Homo sapiens: one gene and its partners. The protein of the gene in region 1 interacts with the protein of each later gene in a pairwise test. Each region holds a gene or a part of one and is shown in the gene's direction. Other genes may lie near its edges. The genes, in order: REL, NUDT10, OTUD4, EXOSC8, PRKAA2, CINP and ASAP3.

Region 1 (3,500 bases):
CCTGCCACCACATCCCGCTAATTTTTTGTATTTTTAGTAGAGATGGGGTTTCACCATGTTTTCCAGGCTGGTCTGGAACTCCTGACCTCAAGTGATCCACCCACTTTGGCCTCCCAAAGTGCTGGGATTACAGGTATGAGCCACCATGCCCAGCCTCAGTGAAATATTTGAATGCTCACTATGAACCTAGCAGTTTTATTCACACTCTCTCTTCCCAAAGTTAAACACTTATCATTAACGATGTCATTTTATATCAGTTTCCCACCAAGACACCTTTAAATAAGTAGTGGGCAGGGATTTATTTGGCCTTTACTTCAGCCACATAAATTATTTAAAATGTGACTTAAAAAGTAATGTTGATTTTAACAGTTTTTAAGAGGAAAATATACTTTCTTAAATACTCCTACAAGGATATATAAGGGTATGAAATATTTGAAATTGCAATGTGAATTTGAAATCTTTAAAATATGCAAGGATAAAATCGTGAAATACTCATCTGCATATCTTATGTTTTTGAGTAAAACTGAAATAAGGATTATGAACTTGTTTAGGTTAAAGTCAGTTTTCTCTGGCTCTTCATCTTCTGAATAAACAAATAGGTAGTAGATTCAAACACAGGGAGTTTACACCATACAGAATAAAATTGAAAGTTACAGTAATACTTTATTCAGTAACCCAAAGTAGAAGCCATGGAATCATCAATGATTCTTTAATTTCTGAGCTATCAGTGATTCTTTAATTTCTCTTAACCCTACTGTTCAGGCACCAGGTGCTGTCAATTTTATCTTTTAAATAATCCTTCATTCATCTTATCACTGCCATATATCAGAGATACCCTCATCATTGCCCACATTATTATAGTGGTCTCTAAACTGATGACATTGCTTTCTTTTTTCTATCTGTTCACTGTGACTAAAACTTTTACTCTAAAATGCAAATCTGATCATGTGATTTGCCTGCATCAAAATATTCATTGATTTCATCACACATAAAATGAAATCCACATTGCCAAGTGTGCTCTGACTTTTAGTTCTCTTTTTAAGAGAGAAAGTGTGTTCCATTTACATTGGTGATTCTTAAATAAACCCTCCTCTGTGGACACACTGTTCCCTTTTCCCTAGAATACCTACCTTTTTCCTCTTCATTTCCTCCGCTCTTTTGCTTCATTAACCGCTCTTTTTCCACTGACACAGTTGGGCATTCCTGACTCTTTCGCTCTTATTTCCGCAGAATTTTGTTAGTGCTTTCCTTCCTTCTGTAGTCTAATAATATATGTTGTTTGCCTTGCTCTTCTATAAGGTCCTTTAGAGTGACAGTTGGGATACCACCATAGTATCACTAAATCATTGTTTTCAAGAAAGCATCTGAAATAATAGACACCATTTTTTTTTATTTTTTATTTTTTTACACTTTAAGTTTTAGGGTACATGTACACATCGTGCGGCTTTGTTACATATGTATACATGTGCCATGTTGGTGTGCTGCACCCATTAACTTGTCATTTAACATTAGGTATATCTCCTAATGCTTTCCCTCCCCCCTTCCCCCACCCCACAACAGGCCCTGGTGTGTGATGTTCCCCTTCCTGTGTCCATGTGTTCTCATTGATCAATTCCCACCCATGAGTGAGAACATGCGGTGTTTGGTTTTTTTGTCCTCACGATAGTTTCCAGCTTCATCTATGTCCCTACAAAGGACATGAGCTTATCCTTTTTTATGGCTGCATAGTATTCCATGGTGTATATGTGCCACATTTTCTTAATCCAGTCTATCATTGTTGGACATTTGGGTTGGTTCCAAGTCTTTGCTATTGTGAAGAGTGCCGCAATAAACATACTTGTGCATGTGTCTTTATAGCAGCATGATTTATAATCTTTTGGGTATATACCCAGTAATGGGATGGCTGGGTAAAATGGTATTTCTAGTTCTAGATCCCTGAGGAATCGCCACACTGACTTCCACAATGGTTGAACTAGCTTACAGTCCCACCAACTGTGTAAAAGTGTTCCTATTTCTTCACATCCTCTCCAGCACCTGTTGTTTCCTGACTTTTTAATGATCGCCATTCTAACTGGTGTAAGATGGTATCTCATTGTGGTTTTGATTTGCATTTCTCTGATGGCCAGTGATGATGAGCATTTTTTCACGTAGACAACATTTATTGAATGTGTATGTATATATGACACTTCGTAAGAATTTAGCACATATAATCTGTCATCTTCACAACAACCCAATGAGGTAGGTGCTATTATGATTATTCCTATTTTACAGAGGAGGAAACTAAGAGATTTTTAATTTTAATCACATTTCCTTGGTCTTACTGTTAAGAAGTAGCTGGGGTAGGATTCTAAAGGCCTCTTCTCCATACTGTTCTGATAAGGCCCACTGTGTTACCATTTCTCAGGATTGCTTGCGTTCTAACAGGATAAGCCTTAGTCAGCACTAAAGTGATTAAGGGACACATTATTATTATTTTTTAATGGAAAACATCTTCACACCCCTATTAACTCCCCTACTTGCAAGTACAGTTGAGTGTCTATTTACCTTTTCCCCCACAATTTGGATAATAAAAGTAAAGTTGCATACATTTTAAATAGCTTTATTGACATATAATTTATGTACAACAAACTGTACTTTTAAAGTATGCAATTTGACAAGTTTTGACATATGTATACAACCCTGGAATCATCATCACAAGATAATGTCCCCCCTGCCTTTCCTATCCACCATATATCCCTGTTCTTAGGCAACCAGTGATCTGCTATCGTTCATTGTATATTACTTTACATATCCTAGGGTTTCATATAAATGGAATCATACAGTATGTGCTCTTCTGGTCTAACTTCTTTCACTCAGCATAATCATTTTGAGAGTCGTCCATGTTATTATATGTAGCAGCAGTTCATTCTGCAGATGCATATTTTGAATTTTAGTTATTATAGAAAGTGAATACTTTTTTTTCTCTATTATGTCTTTAGAAAAGGTTTGCATGGGACTGATTGCACATTCTTTGAGCCTAAAGTCCCTCCTGGGGCTTGTTTTGATATACTGTGTGTAAGTCCTTTAATATTTGAATGGAGATATAAAAAACTTACATATGCTTCTGCAAGGATTTAAATGCATTTTCATTTTCAGTGAATGGTCTTTTCATTCAGTATTATGAATATGATGTAAAATCAAGCAGTTAAATATATTTAACTCACTTTAGGAGTGTGATATTTTACTTCTGAATACTGCCTTCTTTACCCTTCTTGGGGAATCTTGGGGGAAACCCTTCTGCTAGGTCTCACGTGGGAGGCAGATATCTCTGAAGTGGTTATCTCAGAACTTCATATTGACGTTAGCTATAGATATTAAGCTATAAAGTGCTAACCAGTCAATATGGTTTGAATGACTTGTTTTGACACTACATAGGGACTCAATTTGAATGGGAAAAAAAGGTGCCTCTCCCAGCCAATCTCCAAGATAACATTTCGGTCTTGTTATTTAATGTTAGGAGG
Region 2 (4,294 bases), on another chromosome or scaffold:
TGAAGCAGCCCTGCCCTGTGGCCGGAGCCTGGATTGGCCCCTCTCGAACCCAGACACCCCACTAGTCTGCTAGTTTTGCTAGAGTGTCTCGTGATTCATTCAAATCATGTTTCAAAGCTCTGAGTAGAAGTTCAACCATTTTGTACTACTAAGTCCTAACCACATTTTTAGGACCCCTTAGTATTTTATTTGTTTTGTGGTGGTTAATAGTACACTTTGGGAGGCCGAGGTGGGCGGATCGCGAGGTTAGGAGTTCAAGAGCAGCCTGACCAACATGGTGAAACCCGTCTCTTCTAAAGCTACAAAAATTAGCCAGGCGTGATGGCACCCGCCTGTAATCCCAGCTACTCAGGAGGCTGAGGCAGGAGGATCGCTTGAACCCAGGAGGCGAAGGTTGCAGTGAGCTAAGATCGTGCCACGGCACTCCAGCCTGGGCGACAGAGCGACAGAGTGAGACTCCATCTCAAAAAATAAAATAAAATAAAATTGTGAAATAGGACGGGATCTCCATGTGCATGGTTTCCCAAACACCAAGTGGTGCTTATCAAAGAGAAAGATAGAGAAGGGTGGAGTGTGTGGAGAATAGGAGAACGTCTCTGGGCTTTAACGCAGGACTACTAGATGGGTGGTGCTCTGGTCTTTAAGGTGTACTGCATCGAAGTGCAAATGGCTGCAACACGGAGGCGAGGAGTGTACCCATGAGGAAACTGAGGTGCAGGGAGGTCAGGCAGGTTGTGAACAGGGGTTTAAGAAAAGCGTTAAATTACTGGCTGCGCCAAGATGCTCTGCAAGGTGGGAACCTGTTGAAGAAATAAAACTGCATCATGTGACTCAGCAAAGATGCCCGGCTACTGTGCCAAGAATCCCGTGGGTTGTGCAGACAACACTAGGGCCCAGGTCCCATGAGTAAGCCAGAATGGTTGATAGTGGGGGAGGATGATGACGACGCTGCCTTTGCCCCTGTCTTGTGTGAAACAACTGCCTGTGGGTTTCCTGCAGCGCAGTGGGGAGTGAGAGGAGAAACGTCCTGCCGTGCCACAGTGAGTTTGGGTCAAAGGCACACATGGAGGCAGTCTTGGCCAAAGTCACAATGCGGTGAATTTCGCTGTGCGCCAAGGAGGTTCCTGGCCCCAGGAGTGCGAAGCGCCTGCGCAGTGGGCCCCAGGCGTTGCGCGCTGCGGGAGCCAGGAGACCCCCGCCCCTGGCCCCTCGCCCCGGTTCCTCGCCCCTCAGCCCACGCCCTCCCCTGCGAACGCGCACGTGAACGGGAGCGCGGACGCGCCCGAGAATGCGCTTCACCTCGCAGAAGCGGGTGGGCTCTGTGGAGAGTCGCGGGCTCGCGGGCAGCAGCGCCTCCTCCACTCCGGCGGGCCCGGGTTCGGCCGGCCGCCCATCGGACTGGCGGACTGGCTGACTGACACGCCTCGCTTGCCCCCGCCTCCGCCCGTGCCCCGCCCAGCTTCATCTCTCCCTCCGCTCCCCGGGCTCGGGGGCAGACGGCAGACGGAGGCGCCTCTCTCTCCCCGCCCCTCTCCTCGGCCCTTTCTCTTCCCAGCACCTCGGCTGCTGCCCGGCAGCGGCAGCAGCTGCGTCGGCGGCCCACACAGCAGCGAGAGGCGAGAGGAGGCTGCCTCGAGGATGAAGTGCAAACCCAACCAGACACGGACCTACGACCCCGAGGGGTTCAAGAAGCGGGCGGCGTGCCTGTGCTTCCGGAGCGAGCGCGAGGACGAGGTCCTGTTAGTGAGTAGCAGCCGGTACCCGGACCGCTGGATCGTGCCGGGCGGGGGCATGGAGCCCGAGGAGGAGCCGGGCGGTGCGGCGGTCCGAGAGGTGTACGAAGAGGCGGGAGTCAAGGGGAAGTTAGGCCGGCTCCTGGGCGTCTTCGAACAGAACCAGGACCCCAAGCACAGAACGTACGTGTATGTACTGACTGTCACGGAGCTGCTGGAGGATTGGGAAGATTCGGTTAGCATTGGGAGGAAGCGAGAGTGGTTCAAAGTCGAAGATGCCATCAAGGTTCTCCAGTGCCACAAGCCCGTGCACGCCGAATATCTGGAGAAACTAAAGCTGGGCGGTTCCCCAACCAATGGAAACTCCATGGCCCCATCCTCGCCAGATAGCGATCCCTAGTATGTACCGCTTGCGCCCGCACAGACTTCTGTTTGTCTGCCTTGCTTAAAATGCATCCCGCCTGGAGCACCTCTCGTACCATGTGCGGTCTCATGGGCAGGAGGGAGGCTTTTGTTTCCTTGGCAGACCCTCTGAATCACGCTTGCAAACTGTTGCCAGGCCCTGTTTTCAGTTGGCACGTTTTTCAGTTGCTTTCAAAATCGCTTCTTGGTTACCCTGTAAAATGTTTCGGAGAAGCCTATGCCGCTTGGGGTTTTAGGTGCTGTAACTGTTCACCCTGCTTTTGGGCGGGGGGGGGGGGGGTGGGGGGCGAGGGGTGGGCGGGGAGTGTGTGTGTCTGCCTGTGCGCCCTGTGATGTTTTTGGTTCTTTTATATTTCACACATATTCGTGGGTGCGTGCACATTTTTGATACCAGCCTTGTGGTTTGTTTGGTAGTGGAGGCCTTTAAAGTCTGACCAGCTTGGTTGTGTGGCATCTTTTAGTATTTTTTTCCCTTGAGTTGTTTTCTCCTTCACAGCGTTCGCCCTTGTTGTCAGGGAGGCCTTCTGTGGTGGGAGTTGGTTTAAAAAATCAGTTTTGAATTCGTAAAAACATTAGGAAATCCTACATCTTGTGCTCTTTCTGCACTCGACAGTCGCTCTAGCCTCTGAAGTGGTATCTCATTTGCCCCTTTCAGAAATTTCTTTTTCTATTTCTATGTAGGTCATTTGGTTTTCAAAAAATTTTCACAAGTAATTTTTCACTGCTGACTTTAAATCGCTATTTCCCATGTAGATTAACCTTACTGAATAGATGCTGCTGGGGATCTGCTAGCCAAACGCATCTGATCAGAAAAACTGTATTCACAGAATTTGATTTCCCATACTCAACTTCCAACTCCCATTGCCCCTTACTGGATACCATAGAAGAACCATGGTTCTCTGGATTTAAGTTTGTTTTTGAAAGAAAGTGGTTTCCATTCCATATTTGAATGTAGTGACATTCCGCTTAACCTCCCTGACTCCCAGTAACCACAGGAATGGAATCTTTTGTGGTGATTACATCCCAACAGAGTTAGCTCTAGCGATGTTCAGCTGGTACAGAATTGTCAAACTATTAGGATTCCTGAACAATCTCTCAATGATAGAGAGTAATTGTTTTGTCTCACAGTACCACCTTTTCTGGGTGCCAAATTAAAAGCTCTCACGTTTGCCTCAGTACTTGCTTGAAGTCAGGAATCCCATCTAGAATAGCTAAATCTCTCTTCTGGACCTTCCGCTGTTCCCCCAGCCATGTCTGACATTAGGTAGAAGGAAAACCTATTTTGTGAAGAGGGTATTCGAATGAAAAGATCATTCCTAATTTCTAGAGCAACCTAGACTATGTCATATCTCTTAAACATTATTGACAGGTATTGGGGTCCCTTAACTTTTTTTTTTGAGATGGAGTCTTGTTCTATGGGTCACTGTTACGCACTTTCTATTAAGAAATTTTGGGTTTCGCTATGTAAATTCTAGGTTCCTCTTCTGGATTTCATCTCCCATGACAGTTGAGGAAATGTCTAGTTTTTGAAGAGAGTATGGGTGGGGGCTGGGGGACCGGGCGCGGTGGCTCACGCCTGTAATCCCAGCACTTTGGAAGGCCGAGGCGGGCAGATAACGAGGTTAGGAGATCAAGATCAGCCTGGCCAGCATGGTGAAACCCCGTCTCTACTAAAAATACAAAAACTAGCTGGGCATCGTGGTGTGCGCCTGTAATCCCAGCTACTCGGGAGGCTGAGGTAGGAGAATCGCTTGATCCCGGGAGGCGGAGGTTGCAGCGAGCCGAGATCGTGCCACTGCACTCCAGCCTGGGCGACCGTCTCAAAAAAAAAAAAAAAAAAAAAAGACTGATTTTCCCCCTCGTCCCTGTCCCCCAATGGACAAGTGCCTACTTTTTCTTATTCTAAAAAAAATTTGAAGACGACATGTTGGAGTAAAGGTAAGTTTGGTTGCTTGATACAGAATTTGCTCTGGATGGTTAACATATTTTCTAAGAAACCTATGTTCTGTTGATCAGGTCACCTTTGAAAGAAGTAACCCTGAAAGGGGTGAAAGGTGGCCATAAATATTTTTAAGTCCTGTAGAAAATTGATAAAAATTGAAGTGTGTATGTGTAAGAGCTTGTAAAGAAACAGCAAC
Region 3 (3,500 bases), on another chromosome or scaffold:
TATCTTGTCCCAAGTAAAAATGGGAAAGCCTTCTAGTTTGCTTTCATGTATATATTAATTTGCAGAGATATTTGTCATACTACTTTAATTCTTTCGAAGTGTTATCAACCTTGCACAATAATTTACATTTTAGACAGTTGTCATTTAACCTTGCTTTTCTTGCAGTGCTTGACTTTGTGAATTACCAGCACTCTCACACTTTATAGAAGTTGCTAAGAGTTTTGCTTCTGAGCAACAGGTTCAGATAGATTGTATGTGCCAAAATCTTTGTTAAAAGAGAAGAACCAGTAGATATGCCTACCATTGCTTTTGATTGAAAATAAGCTTTACTAACTTATGTTTGCCACCTGTTGCTAGGTAAATGGCTTTAAGACTAGCTCCACGTTGCTAATGGCAGAGGAAAGCCCTATCAGATGACACTGTGGTTTATTCATACGAGTAATACCTTGATTCATGATAGTGTCTAACATAGCTTCTGTGAAAGAAGTGTTGCTAAATGTCATTTGTTGAATTGGCAAAAAAATTCTACGGTGGTTATTTTTATATATAGATAGTCCTTTTTGGTCACATACTCTTAGAATATATAAGAATATAGTTTAATAGTGTCCAAGAACAGCAGTGAAGGTAGAATCAGTTAAACTGAAAACCAGTTATTACACTGAAAACAAACTAATTGCTAACCTCAACAGGTGCATTTTCAGTGTATCTCAGCGTAATAGGACATACTAGGCGTCCAGGCAGTTGTGCCGGTTCTGTGGGTATAAATGAGCCTTGGTTGTGATCCAAGAGAGCTGTAGAATGCACAGCTGGAGCCTCCCTTTTCCCAAATGCTCTACTCATGCTAAACGTAAAGGGAGAACCACTCAATTGGATCTGTAACTTTTTTTTTTTGAGACAGAGTCTTACTCTGTCACTCAGGCTGGAGTGCCCTGGCACGATCTCGGCTCACTGCAACCTCTGCCTCCTGGTTTCAAGCCATTCTCCTGCCTCAGCCTCCCAGGTAGCTGGGACTACAGGCACGCACCACCACACCTGGCTAATTTTTTTTTTTTTTTTGTATTTTTTAGTAGAGATGGGGTTTTCACCATGTTGACCAGGCTAGTCTCAAACTCCTGACCTCAGGGGACCCACCCTCCTCGGCCTCCCAAAGTGCTGGGATTACAGGCGTGAGCCACAGTGCCCGGCCAGGATCTGTAACTTTTAAAGATACTTTCTATTAATATAAATTCTCAAGAGGCCTTGATGGTAGTTTGAAATGTGTTACTTTAAGTGTGTCTGAGTTTTTTTTTTTTAAACCATAACCCTTTACGGTACAGGAATATCTTTATTTGAGATACCCAGTAATAGAAAAGAATTTTAATCTCCTTTAAGCATGTTAAATAATTGGGAGCTAGGGCCGGGCGTGGTGGCTCATGTCTGTAATCCCAGCACTTTGAGAGGCCCAGGCGGGCAGATCACCTGAGGTCAGGAGTTTGAGACCACCCTGCCCAACATGGTGAAACCCTGTCTCTACTAAAAATAGAAAAATGAGCCGGAAAAAAAAAAAAGAAAGAAAGAAAAATTAGCCGGACATGGCAGCTCCTGTAATCCGGCTACTCGGGAGGCTGAGGCAGGAGAATCGCTTGAACTTGTGAGGCGGAGGTTGCGGTGAGCTGAGATTGCACCACTGCACTCCAGCCTGGTGGGGGAAAAAAGAATTGGGAGCTAGCTAGAAGGAAGCATTGGATAAGAAATAGTTGTTTCAGGCTGGGCACAGTGGCTCATGCCTGTTGTAATCCCAGCACATTGGGAGGTCGAGGTGGGCGGATCACGAGGTCAGGAGTTTGAGACCAGCCTGGCCAAGATGGTGAAACCCTGTCTCTACTAAAAATACAAAAATTAGCCAAGCGCCGTGGTAGTTGGCTGTAATCCCAGCTACTCAGGAGGCTGAGGCAGGAAGATCGCTTGAACCTGGGAGGTGAAGGTTGCAGAGAGCCAAGCTTGCGCCACTGCACTCTAGCCTGGGTGACAGAGCAGGACTCCGTCTCAAAAAAAAAAAAAGAAATAGTTGTTTCAATTCACAGCTTTAGAATTTTGGTAAAAGACCACATGCCAGTAAGTTATCTTTTTGTTGAACTGGTTGTTTAATAGAAGAAAATGTAAACTGCAGAGTGAGAGGATCTGGATCATACTTTGTAGGTTGGTACTTTACAATTTAGGGCATAAAAACAAACCCCAAACCTCTTGGGATGATACCACACAACATTTTTGCACCCCCTATGCTGCCTACTTGGATGTTCTTTCTTGTCTTATAAGCTTGATCACCAAGGAAAGAATGAGTGCCTTAATTTTTCTGAAACCATAGTGGACTTAAATTTTTACACAGAGCCTCTAAGTGGATTCAGAATTAATGGGAAAAATAAATCGGCCTCTTACAGGCTGAAAGCCTCAAAATACATTCCTACAGAAGTTGCCAGTTTGTCTTTTTCAATATGTATAGGATGAAGTTGAGCGTGGCGTAGCATGGATTTTGTTAGCTCTTCTTTGTGAAGAGTAAAGTTATTGTGGAGGGAAGGCCAAGGGAAGAGAGTGTCCTAAATTTACAAAAATGTCCTAAAGGAGAAAGGCTAATAAATTCTTTACAAATTTGGCTTAAGAAGTAGTATTGTTTGTATATGTCATGTCTTCGCTGTGCTTAGTTAGAAGAAGAGGTAGGAATGAGTAAAGATATCGAAATTATAGAAAGGGAAATGGAGAAAGACTGATAATCTATTGGTTGTCAGATTATTTTGGGTGTAAAAGAAGACATTAGGTTGTAACTTTTAACTAAATGCTTAATAGTGTGTTTGTTGCCTTTTCTTTTTAGGTATTGCACTCTCAGTCTCGCCATGTTGAAGTCAGAATGGCCTGTATTCACTATCTTCGAGAGAACAGAGAGAAATTTGAAGCGGTAACTTGTAATTTCAAACATGTAATGGTGTCTTGACTTGGTTTTACATTTTGGCTTTTAGAAGTGTTCTAGTAGAATTTCACAGGCTGGATCTTAATGCGGGTTATGAAAATAACACTTATTAAAAAAACTTCTCTATTGAACTTAATCTAGTTATATTCAGTTATGTTGTTTTCTAGGCTATTTTATGTTTTGCATTTATTTGGACATTTAGAAAGCTACTATGATGGATAAGACGCTGAGCTGTGGGGGATGGAAAGATGACCTGGACAAGGCCCTTGCATACTAAGAGTGGGCTTTGTCTGACATGGTCAGGGAATTGGGGGTGTTGTGATTAATAGTGGTTTCTGTGATGGGTAACTCCCTATAAATTAAAAGAAAAAAAATTCAGTCTGGGCATGGTGGCTCACACCTGTAATCCCAGTACTTTGGGAGGTGAAGAGTTCAAGACCAGCTTGGCCAACATGGCAAAACTCTGTGTCTACTAAAAGTAGTGGCATGGTGGCACATGCCTGAGTCCCAGCTACTCTTGAGTCTGAGGCACGAGGATTGCTCGAACCCAGGAGGCAGA
Region 4 (3,164 bases), on another chromosome or scaffold:
TAAGAGGTTAAATAACTTGCCTGAAGTCTCTCAGCCAGTAAGTATGGCTCTGACATTTGAACTGGCTTAGTAATTGCAGAGCATTTGCTTTTTTTTTTTTTTTTGAGACGGAGTCTTGCTCTGTCGCCCAGGCTGGAGTGCAGTGGCACGATGTCAGCTCACTGCAAGTTCCGTCTCCTGGGTTGAAGTGATTCTCCTGCCTCAGCCTCCCAAGTAGCTGGGATTACAGGCGCCCGCCACCATGCCTGGCTAATTTTTGTATTTTTAGTAGAGACGGGGTTTTGCCATCTTGGCCAGGCTGGTCTCAAACTCCTGACCTCAGGTGATCCGCCCGCCTCTGTGTCCCAAAGTGCTGGGATTACCGGTGTGAGCCACCGCGCCCAGCTGAGCTTTTGCTCTTTACCACTAAAGCAGCAGTTCCTAAATCTTGCTCTATCATCTGGAGAACAAATTAAGATTCTTGGCTAGTAGTTGGGGGCACAAACCCAGTTACTATTTTTTAAAAGATCTCCAGGTAATCTTGCCGAGCAGCACTGTAGTGTAGTCCACTGTACTGTAGTGCCTTCTTATCTTGTAGAGCTATTGTGAGGATCAGCACCAATGTCCGTAGAGGCCCTGACACAATTCCCTAAGCTGATATTTGATAGAGCCTTCCATAACTGATTGCTAAATTGTCTTCATAATTTTTCAGTAGCTTCTTTCAATAGGAAACATTTCTTTGCTACTATAGGAATTTGCAGCACCATCAACAGATGCCCCTGATAAAGGATACGTTGGTAAGTTAAATGGTTTTGTAATTTTAATACAAATACTTTTAACACATTTAATAATTTTTAGTTAAGTCCTAGTTAAGTTGATGTAAAGAAAATTATTCCTAATATTCGGAAATATTTATGAATAAAACAAATTCCTCAAAAGTTTTCCGTGTGTTAGTAAAAGATAGCATAATAGCAGGATATAGAATTTCATAAATTTAACCTTTATCAAACTTGTTTGCTCAATTTTTGTTTATACATTCATAAGTTACTAACCAAGAAAATAGAATTTTGGCTGGGTGTGGTGACTCACACCTATAATACCAGGATTTTGGGAGGCCAAGACAGCAGGATCGCTTCAGCCCAGCAGTTCAAGACCAGCCTGGGAAACAAAGGAGACCCCGTATCTACAAAAAAAATCAAGTTAGCTGGGTGTGCCAGTGCACACCTGTGTCCCAGCTACTTGGGAGGCTGAAGCAGGAGGATTGCTTGAGCCTGGGAGGTTGAGGCTACAATGAACTATAATTGTGTCACTGCATTCAAGCCTGAGTGACAGAGTGAAACCCTGTTTCAAAAGAAAAAAAAAATAGAATGGAATTTTTTTAAGTCAAAGAACTGTCATTGCACACCTTTTGTTTCCATAAAGATTCTTTGCTTTATACAACTGCTATTTTTTTCTTGCCTTGGAACCATCTGTTCTTTATGGTAGGAACCAACATTTTTTTTAAATGAGAAAAACAGTTGGATGTTAGCAGAGGGGCTATATATACTTCAGTTACAGATTGAGGTATTTTGAAAGATACCAGGAAAACTCGTAAAGGATTTAGAATTGAGGTCTAAAATAGATTTTTTAAAAAGGCATATGGGGGAAAAATGTCAGAAAAATAGAAATTTCATGGCTGGGAGTCTTAGAGAGACCAAACAGAATATAACTATAATGTTACAATGTATTCTACTCAGAAGAGCCTGTCCATGGCCACAGTTGCCTTTACTGTGGATTGATAATACCTTTAACACTTCAGTAATCCATAAATTGAAAAGTTTAGGCCGGGCATGGTGGCTCACACCTGTAACCTCAGCACTTTGCGAGGCTGAGGCGGGCGGATCACGAGGTCAGGCGATCGAGACCATCTTGGCCAATATGGTAAAACCCTGTCTACTAAAATACAAAAAATTAGCCGGGCGTGGTGGCGTGTGCCTGTAATCTCAGCTACTTGGGAGGCTGAGGCAAGGAAATCTCTTGAACCTGGGAGGTAGAGGTTGCAGTAAGCTGAGATCGCACCAATGCACTCCAGCCTGGCAACAGAGCAAGACTCCATCTCAAAAAAAAAAAAAAAAAAAAAAAGGTTTAGTTCATAGCTGCAGAGTGTTTCTTTCAGTTCCTAATGTGGATCTACCACCCCTGTGTTCATCGAGATTCCGGTCTGGACCTCCTGGAGAAGAGGCCCAAGTGGCTAGCCAGTTCATTGCAGATGTCATTGAAAAGTAAGAGCACCATGATAAAATTTTATTACAATTCATTTTCAGATAGTTTTGGGCTTTTCATTTACTTTGCTCTTTGTCATTAAATCAAGTTCACAGATAATTCAGAAAGAGGACTTATGCATTTCTCCAGGAAAGGTAAGAGGAATAGAGAAGCTATAAGTTCTTATTAATTCTGAAGGGATTTTTTTTTTGTGGGGGAAAGTGAACAAGGAAATTAAAACCACCAATCAAAGTAGCTTTAAATATGGATGTCTTACAGATTTTAGAGATTCAGTAATTTCTTACTCTATAATTCTCTAAATGAACCATATTGTTTATAAAAAAACAAGTTTGACTAACTTACTGCCTGTCTGGGAGCTACCTTTTAAACTGAAGTAATTTTTTTCCCCCTTAACTTTTAAAGTTCAATCATTTTTTATTCCTTATAGCAGATTATAACATTAATCATGTTAACATATGTTTATGGTGAATCCACACAGTAGATTCCAAAGTCTATTTGAAAATGTAAAACTAGGTTGATTAGAACCTAGAGAGGCTTTCCTACTAGATCATATAAACTGATACATTAGCACTGTAAAACTTAAACATTTCATGTATTATGAGAACGTGCATTTTGAATTTTAGCTAGGGCTTTCAAAACCATCTCCCTTATCTGTAACCTCCCAATGAGAATGGAAATTCCTTCTACATCTGTAGCTCCATTAAGGGAAATGGACATGTTTGTCATTTGTCAGCCTGGCAATCAAAAGCCAGCTTTCACAAAACCTGTCCACTTTCTTCTGGTTTTCTATAGAACTTTAAAAAGGTGAAGCATTTTCTTAAGGTTTTTGAGCCTTGAAAGTTATCTTGCTTGTTTAACCAAGGGTTCTGTGGTTCTTAAGTCTAAGCTAATAGCATGTTCTACCCATTAGAAGACTTTAATTT
Region 5 (3,500 bases), on another chromosome or scaffold:
ATCTCCAAATTATGCAGCACCTGAAGTCATCTCAGGCAGGTAATAATCAGTGAAGCATAAGCTTTTTGTAATCTTGTGTTCATTTTGATAACATTTAATTACAATATATTCTCTATGGAAGGTAAGATTTTAACATGGTAGAAATGGATTATTCATTTATTTTTCCACTGTTAAAGGGATAATGGTTATATCAAAAAATGTTAAACATTTCATTTAGATGTCATTATAAATATACTTACGAAGTTTTCCCCATTAGAAAAATAACTGAAGTAGATCCTGATTTAACATATCTTTCATTTTACAAAAGTGCAGATAAGAGAGTAAGAATTTGCTAAATTTAAGCTAGTGTCATTTATTTATTAGATATAGTTCTTTAATAATACCTTGCATATTTTCCAAAGTATATAGAGCATTGTTTTATATTTTGTGTTTGGAAAAATGAGATTTTGGGGGAAAATATTGTTTCATGAAATTACACAAGTAGAGATTGTGTAGTTACTCATAACTTATTCATTGGTACATTATAAAAATGTTTATACAGATTGCAGTGGTAAACTCAAGTCTTTCTACAGTGATCAACGTGTGATTTTAAAAGTTAACAGAATCCTATAAGAGAAAATATGGTTAAAGTATTATTGCAAATAGCAGATAAAGAATTATCTTAGTCCATTTGGGCTGCTATAAGAAAGATACAATAAAGGTGATAGCTTATAAACAACAGAAATGTATTTCTCACAGTTCTGAAGTCTGGGAAGTCCAAGATCAAGATTTGGTATCTGGTGAGGGTCTGCTTCCTAATAGACTACTGTATGCTCACTGTAACTTCACATGGTGAAAGGGACAAGGGATCTCTCTGGGGTCGCTCTTATAAGGGCACTAATCCCATTCATGAGAACTCTGCACTAGTGACCTAATCACCCCCCTTAAGTCCCCACCTCCTAATACTATCTCCTTGGGGGTTAGGATTTCAACACATGAATTTTGAGAGGACATAAGCATTCAGTCCATTGCAAGGAGTTTGAACAATACAGCAAATGATGTAAACAATCACCATTTTTTATATAAACAGATTATATTCTTTTCATTAGAATAGTAAAGATTTACTTTGTTACCTCAGACCCAGGTTTGAGTATGGTAATATGCTATCATGGGAATTGTAATGCTGTAGAAACGTAAGAGAAAAAAGGAATAATACTATAAGCATAGGTTATCTGGATCAAAGATGATTTTAGTCATATGAGTTAGGAAGTGATGAGAATAGAAATAGTAAGTACTCAGGATAATGTGATACAGGATAAATACTGTCTACACAGTACTAATTAAGTACTTTAATGTTTTAAATATCTCTCTCTCTATATATATGATATATTATATATATATATATATATATTTTTTGTTTTGAGATAGAGTCTCGCTCTGTCACCTAGGCTAGAGTGCAGTGGCACAATCTCAGCTCACTGTACCACCTCCTGGGCTCAGATGATCCTCCCACCTCAGCCTTCTGAGTAGCTGGGACTAAGATGTGCACCACCATCCCTGGCTATTTTTTGTATTTTTAGTAGAAACAGCGTTTCACCATGTTGCCCAGGCTGGCCTCAAACTCGTAGCCTCAAGCAATCCGCCCGCCTCAGCCTCCCAAAGTACTAGGATTACAGGTGTGAGCTACCGTGACCAGCCTTAATATTCTTTAAAGGTGTGCCAGGGGTAGAAATTCTATTATATGTATACATTATATATATGTTTTCTTTCTTGTAATAGTTCTTTGGGAAAAAGATTTAACCTATACACCATAGTATTTTTTCAAGTTTGTGGTCATCTACTTTGTTTCCCTCAAAAATCAACCACAGAAAGTATTATATGTTTTAATTCGTATGTTTCAGTTAAATGAATTTGTGACAAATAAAAATACCCTATTCACTTGGCAGGCTTGAATAGTAGTTGGCTAGCCCCATTACTCTCTTTGGGGAACAAACACTGAATATTGGGGAGCAGCCATGGACTTCATTAAAGACCTTGGAAATGAATATGTACTGAATGTAGACTACCTATATATAGAAGTAGGGTACATAGAGAAAAAGTGATTCTTGCATTTCAGGTTTGTGTTGTCATCTTTTTTCTTAGATTGTATGCAGGTCCTGAAGTTGATATCTGGAGCTGTGGTGTTATCTTGTATGCTCTTCTTTGTGGCACCCTCCCATTTGATGATGAGCATGTACCTACGTTATTTAAGAAGATCCGAGGGGGTGTCTTTTATATCCCAGAATATCTCAATCGTTCTGTCGCCACTCTCCTGATGCATATGCTGCAGGTTGACCCACTGAAACGAGCAACTATCAAAGACATAAGGTGATTTTTCTTTTTGTTTCTGTTCTGCATATTTTCTCATAGGAATAATAATGTTAATTAAATGATTCTCCCAAAGTCTCATTTCCTGCCCTCACCACCTCACCCCAGTACTCATGCTTCAGCCACATTGAACTTGTCCTTGTTTCTCAAACCTAACATAGATTTTATGCCTTCATGTCTTTGTTTATATTATTCACTTTGCCTTGATGTCTTTTCTTGTTTCTTTTTTGACCTGATAGACTTCCATTCATCCATTAAAGTTCATGCCACCCCTTTTGTGATTTCCACACGTGCTTCCATTTCTGTTTTATCAACATTTTGTTCATGCTTTTATTATTTAATCCTCATCCTGTATCTAGTTATTTCTCAGTGTGTCTTTTTTCTCTCTTAAATTATGATATCAGGGTAGAGAGTGTGTCTTATTCATCTTTGACTACACAATGCTAAAAGGCCTGGAAAGATGGTATGCTTAGAAAGTGTCTGAAGAAATTTCAAATGGAGAAATAGGGTGAGATTTTGTATTTTACATATGGTTAAAGACATAAAGCATAAAAAGTTTTGCTAAGTTTTTGAATTCAATAGCTGCTAGTCAGCTTACTGTGAAGGCTTTTTTGTCACTTGAGAAAGTTTGGAAAGTGCCATTGCTGATGCGCCTATGAATATGACCTTTGTATATCCCACACCTGTGTATAGTAGCAAGATGATTCACTGCATCCTGCCTATGACTTATCAAGGCATGTTTCTTAGAGGTTTTTTCTTCTTACCTAAGATTTCATCCGTGTTTGTTTACAAACATGTTCTTTTGACATCTTTCCAGAACTCTTTCCCCTTTTCATCATTAGCCAGCAAAGAATTTTTTTTTTTTTTTAAGGCAGGGTCTCACTCTGTCGCCCAGGCTGGAGTGCAGTGGTGTGATCACAGCTCACTGTAGGTAGCCTCAACCTCCCAAGCTGAGGTGTTCCTCCCACCCCAGGCTCCTGAGTAGCTGGGACTATAGGCACAAGCCACCACACCCAGCTAATTTTTTTTAATTTTTTTATTTTTAGTAGAAATGGAGTTTTGCCATGTTGCCCAGGCTGGTCTTGAACTTCTGGGCTCAAGCAATCCACCCACCTTGCCCTCCCAAAGTGCTGGGATTACAAGTGTGAGTCGTT
Region 6 (2,554 bases), on another chromosome or scaffold:
GATCACCTGAGGTCAAGAGTTTGAGACCAGCATGGCCAACATAGTGAAACCCCATCTCTACTAAAAATACAAAAAATTAGCTGGGGGTGGTGGCAGGTGCCTGCAATCCCAGCTACTTGGGAGGCTGAGGCGGGAGAATCACTTTCGGAGGTTGCAGTTAGCCGAGATCAAGCCACTGCACTCCAGTCTGGGCCACAGAGTGAGACTCCGTGTCAAAAAAAAGAAAAAAAGAAAAAGAAAAGTGGTTTGGGAATAAGTTCTCATTCTATGTTCAAAACCAAAAGTTGATTTTATAGGGTATTATTATTTTTCCTATTTTCCTCTATCCGTTATAGAGAATGGTTTCCAGACCTGGTCTGTGTCTTTCATAACTTTGACCTTCTGGGGGTTTCATGCACCGTTCTTCCTAAGCTGGGCTAACATTTCACTGTGGTCTGTGTTTGCTGTGGGAAGAAGCCACCGATGTTGAAATGTAAGGGCCTGCTGTTTATGCACTGTTCATTCAGGGCTGCACGTGCCTATGTGACTTGAATTCTTTATTGATGGCTGAGCTGCAGGATTGAGCATGACTTCTTGCCTGGGGTCAAGGCTCCAGAATTTTCCTTAGTCTCCTGTTATCAGCTTTTCTTAGAATCAGGTGGCACCAGGGAGCTGCTGCAGGACTCACAGGAAAGAGCAGAGGATTGGGTGTTAAAACTTGGTGTCGGCTGGGCGCGGTGGCTCACGCCTGGAATCCCAACACTTTGGGAGGCTGAGGTGGGCGGATCACAAGGTCAGGAGATCGAGACCATCCTGGCTAACACAGTGAAACCCCAGCTCTGCTAAAAGTACCAAAAAAATTAGCCAGGCACAGTGGCGGGCGCCTGTAGTCCCAGCTACTTGGGAGGCTGAGGCAGGAGAATGGCATGAACCCGGGAGGCGGAGGTTGCAGTGAGCGGAGATCGCGCCACTGCACTCCAGCCTGGGTGACAAAGCGAGACTCTGTCTCAAAAAAAACAAAAACAAAAACAAAAACAAAAAAACTTGGTGTCAGAAGGCATGGTATCGAGTTCTGGCCTCATCCTTCCTCAGCTCAACCTTAAGCAATTTCCCAGCTGTGAAACGGAAATGACAAGTCCTGCCTCTTGGGGTTGGGCCAAATAAAATATCAAACCTTAAAAGATTTGGGAAACTACTTAAGTAAAGTCCTTTAAAAATTAACGTTAGCTGAATTTAGTGCTTGCCACTTCCAATGTAATTGGAGGGTGGTTGGAAGGACCAAGTAAAGGAATTAAGATATTTGACAATTTATATATCTTTTCTTATTTCCCCTTTTTCATATTTATGTATGTAAAGTCAACTATACTTAGGAGTTCAAAATTTGGTCTTTATAGACCTATGCTACTTAAATCTGAAATCCTAGTTACTTCACCCATTAATTTTCTTTATCCAACCCTTATATATCTCCAAGTAGGTGCTTCACAAATACTAACTCACTTAATCCTCTTCACCAAGCTGTGAAAGTAAGCCCGCCATTGCCCCTATTCTGTGCTGCCTGGTGTGTGCAGTGGGGTTGGTTTAGTGTCTCCCACAAGTAGCCATACACATCATGCAGTTACAGGGCTTAGGACAGAGCCTGGTCCACACTGAGGGACCGTCAATGGCAGCTTGCCACGTTTCCTTCCTTTCTGCGTGAAGTGTGTAGGGCTCCCTTTCTGTGTTGCCATTTTATAAACAAGGAAGTCAAGGAGGTTTCCGTAAATAAAGGCAGTTAATAAGAGAGAGTCAGGCCTGGTGCGGTGTCTCATGCCTAGAATCCCAGCACTTTGGGCGGCCGAGGTGGGCGGATCACGAGTTCAGGAGATCAAGACCAGCCTGGCCAACATGGTGAAACCCCGTCTCTACTAAAAATACACAAATTAGCTGGGCGTGGTGGCACATGCCTGCAATCCCAGCTACTTGGGAGGCTGAGGCAGGAGAATCGCTTGAACCAGGGAATCAGAGGTTGTAGTGAACCGAGATCTCGCCACTGCACTCCAGCCTGGCACTGCACTCCAGCTTGGCAACAGAGCAAGACTCCGTCTCAAAAAAAAAAAAAAAAAAGAGAGAGAGAGAGAACATCAGAAACGAGCTCATTTGATAGAGAGACAGAGAGCCTCAGAAACGAGCTCATTTGATAAAAGAGAGAGAGAGAGAGCATCAGAAACGAGCTCATTTGATGCCTTTCTCTCTCACTTCTTAAAAGCAGCAAGAGCCAGCCAGGCGCGGTGGCGCATGCCTGTATAATCCCAGCACTTTGGGAGGCTGAGGCGGGAGGATTGCTGGAGCCCAGGAGTTAGAGACCAGCCTGGGCAACATAACGAGACCCTGTCTCCACAAATTAAAAAAAATTAGCTGGGTGTGGTGGTGCACACCTGTGATCCCAGCTACTTGGGAGGCTGAGGTGCCAGCGGTTGAGGCTGCATAAGGCATGATCATGCCACACAGAATGAGACCCTGTCGCAAAAAAAAAAAGAAAAAAAAAAAAAGGCAGCAAGAGCCTGCCTTGGGATTCCTCCAGGTCTTTGGGTCTAAG
Region 7 (3,500 bases), on another chromosome or scaffold:
GACCATCTCACACAGCACGGTGAGGCCTAGAGGTGGTGGGAGTCTCAGGGCACGATGGACCCTCTTCTTCTGGTGTTCTGAGCAAATAATGTCAAGCCCTCCCTCTAAGACTGGCCCCCAAACCTAGGTCCAGGGAGCTGGAGACCCGTTTGGGAGGACAGATGGGACCTGAAGGCCCCAATCTAGTCTTAGTCTACACTTCACATCCTTGAGGTGCTGCTGGGTGAGGAGAAACACAAATGGAACAGGATGATTATGCCCATTTAACAGAGTGGGAAATGGAGGCCTAAAGAATGTGGAGGGCCAGAGGTAATGCATACATCCTCCGCCCCTAAATTCCCACAGATAAACCGGCCCCCGGTGAAGCTGACCCTGCTGACGTGCCAAGTGAGGCCAAACCCTGAGGAGAAAAAGTGCTTCGACCTGGTGACCCGTGAGTGGTCCCTGTGCCTCTCCCCCACCCACAGCTGCTCAGGGCTTCTCTAAGACACCTGTCAGCTCCCGGGGGGCTTCAGTGAGGGGTCTGTGTCCAGTTCCACACATGGTGTCGAATTGCTGCTACTGCAGACATAAGAATCCTTAGGTCTAGGATACCCACATCACATTAAATGTCAAAATGCACCCACTTTACATAATAAATGTGGCTATTTATACAGAGCATATTTGAGTGGATTTGGGTCATCTGGGTTTTGAAATTATTTCTTTTTTTAAAATTTTACCTTTTTTTCCCAAATACCCAGACTTGAAGGAGATGAAATTATTGTTTCTTTACATTTTCTACTTTTCGTTCTTCAGAGCCTTTGGTGCAGGCTTTGTGTGAGAGCAGACACAGGCTGAGAAAGACCTAGATCTTGTCCTCAGGAAACTCTCTGGCAGGGGTGTGGGGTGGGTACCCAGGACTGTAAGATGAGGGGGCTGTCCAGAAGATGGGTGCAGATATAGCCCCATAGAAGATTAGGGAGCAGGAAGGCCTGCACTGCTGTGGGGAATCAGGAAAGGCTCCTGGAGGAGACAGTATTTGAGTTTAGCCTTGAAGGACATGTAGAATGAAGAGTTTGTGGGGTGGGGGCTTTTGAGGAGACAGGATTAGCATGATGAAAGGCATGGAAGCAGGAGAGTGGGTCTGGCCGGTTTGGCCAGAGTGGAGGGTTCATGTAGCAGAGTGAGAGATGAGGCCTGGAAATCCCTCTTAAAAGTTTGGACCTTATTTCCTGGCAATAGAGAGCCATGGGAGATCTTGGGGCAGGGCAGTGGTGTAATTAGAGCAGAGCCTTGGGCACAACAGTTGGGAGCTGGTACAGGCTAGGGGAAAGGGGAAATGGGAAGCAGGGAGACCAGACAGGAGGCCTGGTCGCCCAGGAGGAGACCAGGAAGGGCCCAGTGGGGTGGTGACAGTTGGTTCAGAGGATGCCCTGCCTCAGAGCTGGGTTCTCTGGGGTTCCAAGCCCTTTGAGACCTCGTCTGAGCCTGGAACCAGGGCTTCACGCAGAGGGAGCTTTGTTGGGATCCTACTTCGGAGGCCAGTTCTGAGAAACTGCCCCTGGTGCTGGCCACTGTCATTCCACTCCCTTCCCACTCCTAGCTTGAGAGTCCGACTTGTCAGGGACACATCTCCATGTGGCCCCAGCGGCTTTGGTGGGGGCTCCCTGGGCTCCGGGAAGGCCAGCAGCATTTCTGTGGGTCAGAAGCCCCCTTCTCTCCCGACAGACAACCGGACGTACCACTTTCAGGCAGAGGACGAGCACGAGTGTGAGGCGTGAGTGCCCCCTCGGCCAGCCCGGCCAGCCTTGTGGGTGGGGGCCGGCGGCCCTATCTCTTCCCACTTGACATCCCCATCCCACCCCGTTCAATCTCCGCAGGTGGGTGTCAGTGTTGCAGAACAGCAAGGACGAAGCCCTGAGCAGCGCCTTCCTCGGGGAGCCCAGCGCTGGCCCGGGGTCCTGGGGGTCCGCCGGCCATGATGGGGAGCCGCACGACCTCACAAAGCTGCTCATCGCGGAGGTGAAGAGCAGGCCTGGGAATAGCCAGTGCTGCGACTGCGGGGCTGCAGGTCGGTCCCCGGGGCCGGGGCAGGAGGGAGGCTTAAGTGGAGGGGAGGGGCTGCACCTCCAGGCTCCAGCTGCTTTCCTCTGCAGACCCCACGTGGCTCAGCACCAACCTGGGCGTGCTCACCTGCATCCAGTGCTCGGGCGTCCACCGCGAACTGGGCGTGCGCTTTTCGCGCATGCAGTCACTCACCTTGGACCTGCTGGGCCCCTCCGAGTTGTTGGTGAGGGCGGGGCGGGGCCTGGAAGGGGCCAGAAGCGGAGTTAGGGGTGTAGTTTCATCCGGGGGCGGGGCTTGCAGGTTGTGGGTGGGACCTGGCCGAGGTGGGCTGGGACAAGCCAGGTAGCGGGTGGTCAGGGGCGGGGCCTGAACCGGGAGGGCGGCCGAGGGGCGGGACTCTGGGGGCTTGGAGCTCCACCCTATGCAGGCTTAACCGCCCGGTCTTACTCCGCCCCACGTCTATTTTCCTACGACTCCAGCTGGCCTTGAACATGGGAAACACGAGCTTCAATGAGGTCATGGAGGCCCAGCTACCCTCACACGGCGGCCCTAAACCCTCAGCTGAGAGTGACATGTAAGGGGATTCTCAGAGAGAGGGGCACCCTGCCTAGGGGATTCTGCCTCCGCAGTGTCCAGGGTCGTAGAAAAGTCTTGGATCAGAAGTCTGGGGAGGCTGGGCGCAGTGGCTCACGCCTGTAATCCCAGCACTTTGGGAGGCCAAGGCGGGCGGATCACTTGAGGTCAGGAATTTGAGACCAGCCCGGCTAAGATGGCAAAACCCCGCCTGTACTCAAAATACAAGAATTAGCTGGGCGTGGTGGCACACGCCTGTAATTCCAGCTACTCAGGAGGTTGAGGCACTAGAATTGCTTGAACCCTGGAAGCAGAGGTTGTAGTGAAACGAGATTGCGCCACTGCACTCCCTCCTGGGCAATAGAGTGAGACTGTCTAAAAAAAAAGCCTGGGGAGAGGGGAGCCTCAGATCTAGACGTCTTCAGGACATGGTTCTGGAGAAAAAGAGAGCTGTATCTCCTGTGGGAGGGCCCCAGGGATCAGCTGGGCAGACACGGTCCATGCTCTGAGATCCTGTGGTTGTTTTTGGTAGGGGCACCCGCAGGGACTACATTATGGCCAAGTATGTGGAGCATAGGTTTGCACGCCGGTGCACACCTGAGCCTCAGCGACTCTGGACAGCCATTTGCAACAGGGACCTCCTGTCGGTACTGGAGGCCTTTGCCAATGGGCAGGACTTTGGACAGCCGCTGCCAGGGCCTGATGCACAGGTGAGAACCCCTCCAAGGGCCACTTATAACCCACCTGTCTAACATATTCCCCAGTTCTTCTCCAGGACCAGCTGTTACTCCCCTCCACCCCACCTCTGACATCTGCTCAGATCTCACCCATCAGAGTGGTAAGTGGGAAAGAGCACAGCTTCAGTCAGGCAGACCTGGGTG

What was found.
Region 2: the proteins of REL (region 1) and NUDT10 interact in binary tests that used the Homo sapiens proteins (3 or more experiments, as listed by UniProt).
Region 3: the proteins of REL (region 1) and OTUD4 interact in binary tests that used the Homo sapiens proteins (3 or more experiments, as listed by UniProt).
Region 4: the proteins of REL (region 1) and EXOSC8 interact in binary tests that used the Homo sapiens proteins (3 or more experiments, as listed by UniProt).
Region 5: the proteins of REL (region 1) and PRKAA2 interact in binary tests that used the Homo sapiens proteins (3 or more experiments, as listed by UniProt).
Region 6: the proteins of REL (region 1) and CINP interact in binary tests that used the Homo sapiens proteins (3 or more experiments, as listed by UniProt).
Region 7: the proteins of REL (region 1) and ASAP3 interact in binary tests that used the Homo sapiens proteins (3 or more experiments, as listed by UniProt).

Annotation. Positions count from the first base shown.
Region 1 is NC_000002.12:60,888,074-60,891,573, forward strand, and holds part of REL (proto-oncogene c-Rel), read left to right. Parts: intron 1-3,500. UniProt on the Homo sapiens protein: Proto-oncogene that may play a role in differentiation and lymphopoiesis.
Region 2 is NC_000023.11:51,331,328-51,335,621, forward strand, and holds the start of NUDT10 (diphosphoinositol polyphosphate phosphohydrolase 3-alpha), read left to right. Parts: upstream 1-1,494; 5' UTR 1,495-1,638; coding exon 1,639-2,132; intron 2,133-4,294. UniProt on the Homo sapiens protein: Cleaves a beta-phosphate from the diphosphate groups in PP-InsP5 (diphosphoinositol pentakisphosphate), suggesting that it may play a role in signal transduction.
Region 3 is NC_000004.12:145,174,090-145,177,589, reverse strand, and holds part of OTUD4 (OTU domain-containing protein 4), read left to right. Parts: intron 1-2,845; coding exon 2,846-2,929; coding exon of another isoform or gene 2,930-2,950; intron 2,951-3,500.
Region 4 is NC_000013.11:37,003,786-37,006,949, forward strand, and holds part of EXOSC8 (exosome complex component RRP43), read left to right. Parts: intron 1-730; coding exon 731-776; intron 777-2,134; coding exon 2,135-2,240; intron 2,241-2,329; coding exon 2,330-2,375; intron 2,376-3,164. UniProt on the Homo sapiens protein: Non-catalytic component of the RNA exosome complex which has 3'->5' exoribonuclease activity and participates in a multitude of cellular RNA processing and degradation events.
Region 5 is NC_000001.11:56,693,814-56,697,313, forward strand, and holds part of PRKAA2 (5'-AMP-activated protein kinase catalytic subunit alpha-2), read left to right. Parts: coding exon 1-39; intron 40-2,121; coding exon 2,122-2,346; intron 2,347-3,500. UniProt on the Homo sapiens protein: Catalytic subunit of AMP-activated protein kinase (AMPK), an energy sensor protein kinase that plays a key role in regulating cellular energy metabolism.
Region 6 is NC_000014.9:102,350,337-102,352,890, reverse strand, and holds part of CINP (cyclin-dependent kinase 2-interacting protein), read left to right. Parts: intron 1-2,554. UniProt on the Homo sapiens protein: Component of the DNA replication complex, which interacts with two kinases, CDK2 and CDC7, thereby providing a functional and physical link between CDK2 and CDC7 during firing of the origins of replication.
Region 7 is NC_000001.11:23,435,680-23,439,179, reverse strand, and holds part of ASAP3 (arf-GAP with SH3 domain, ANK repeat and PH domain-containing protein 3), read left to right. Parts: coding exon 1-19; intron 20-345; coding exon 346-433; intron 434-1,707; coding exon 1,708-1,756; intron 1,757-1,859; coding exon 1,860-2,050; intron 2,051-2,135; coding exon 2,136-2,269; intron 2,270-2,525; coding exon 2,526-2,620; intron 2,621-3,151; coding exon 3,152-3,329; intron 3,330-3,500. UniProt on the Homo sapiens protein: Promotes cell proliferation.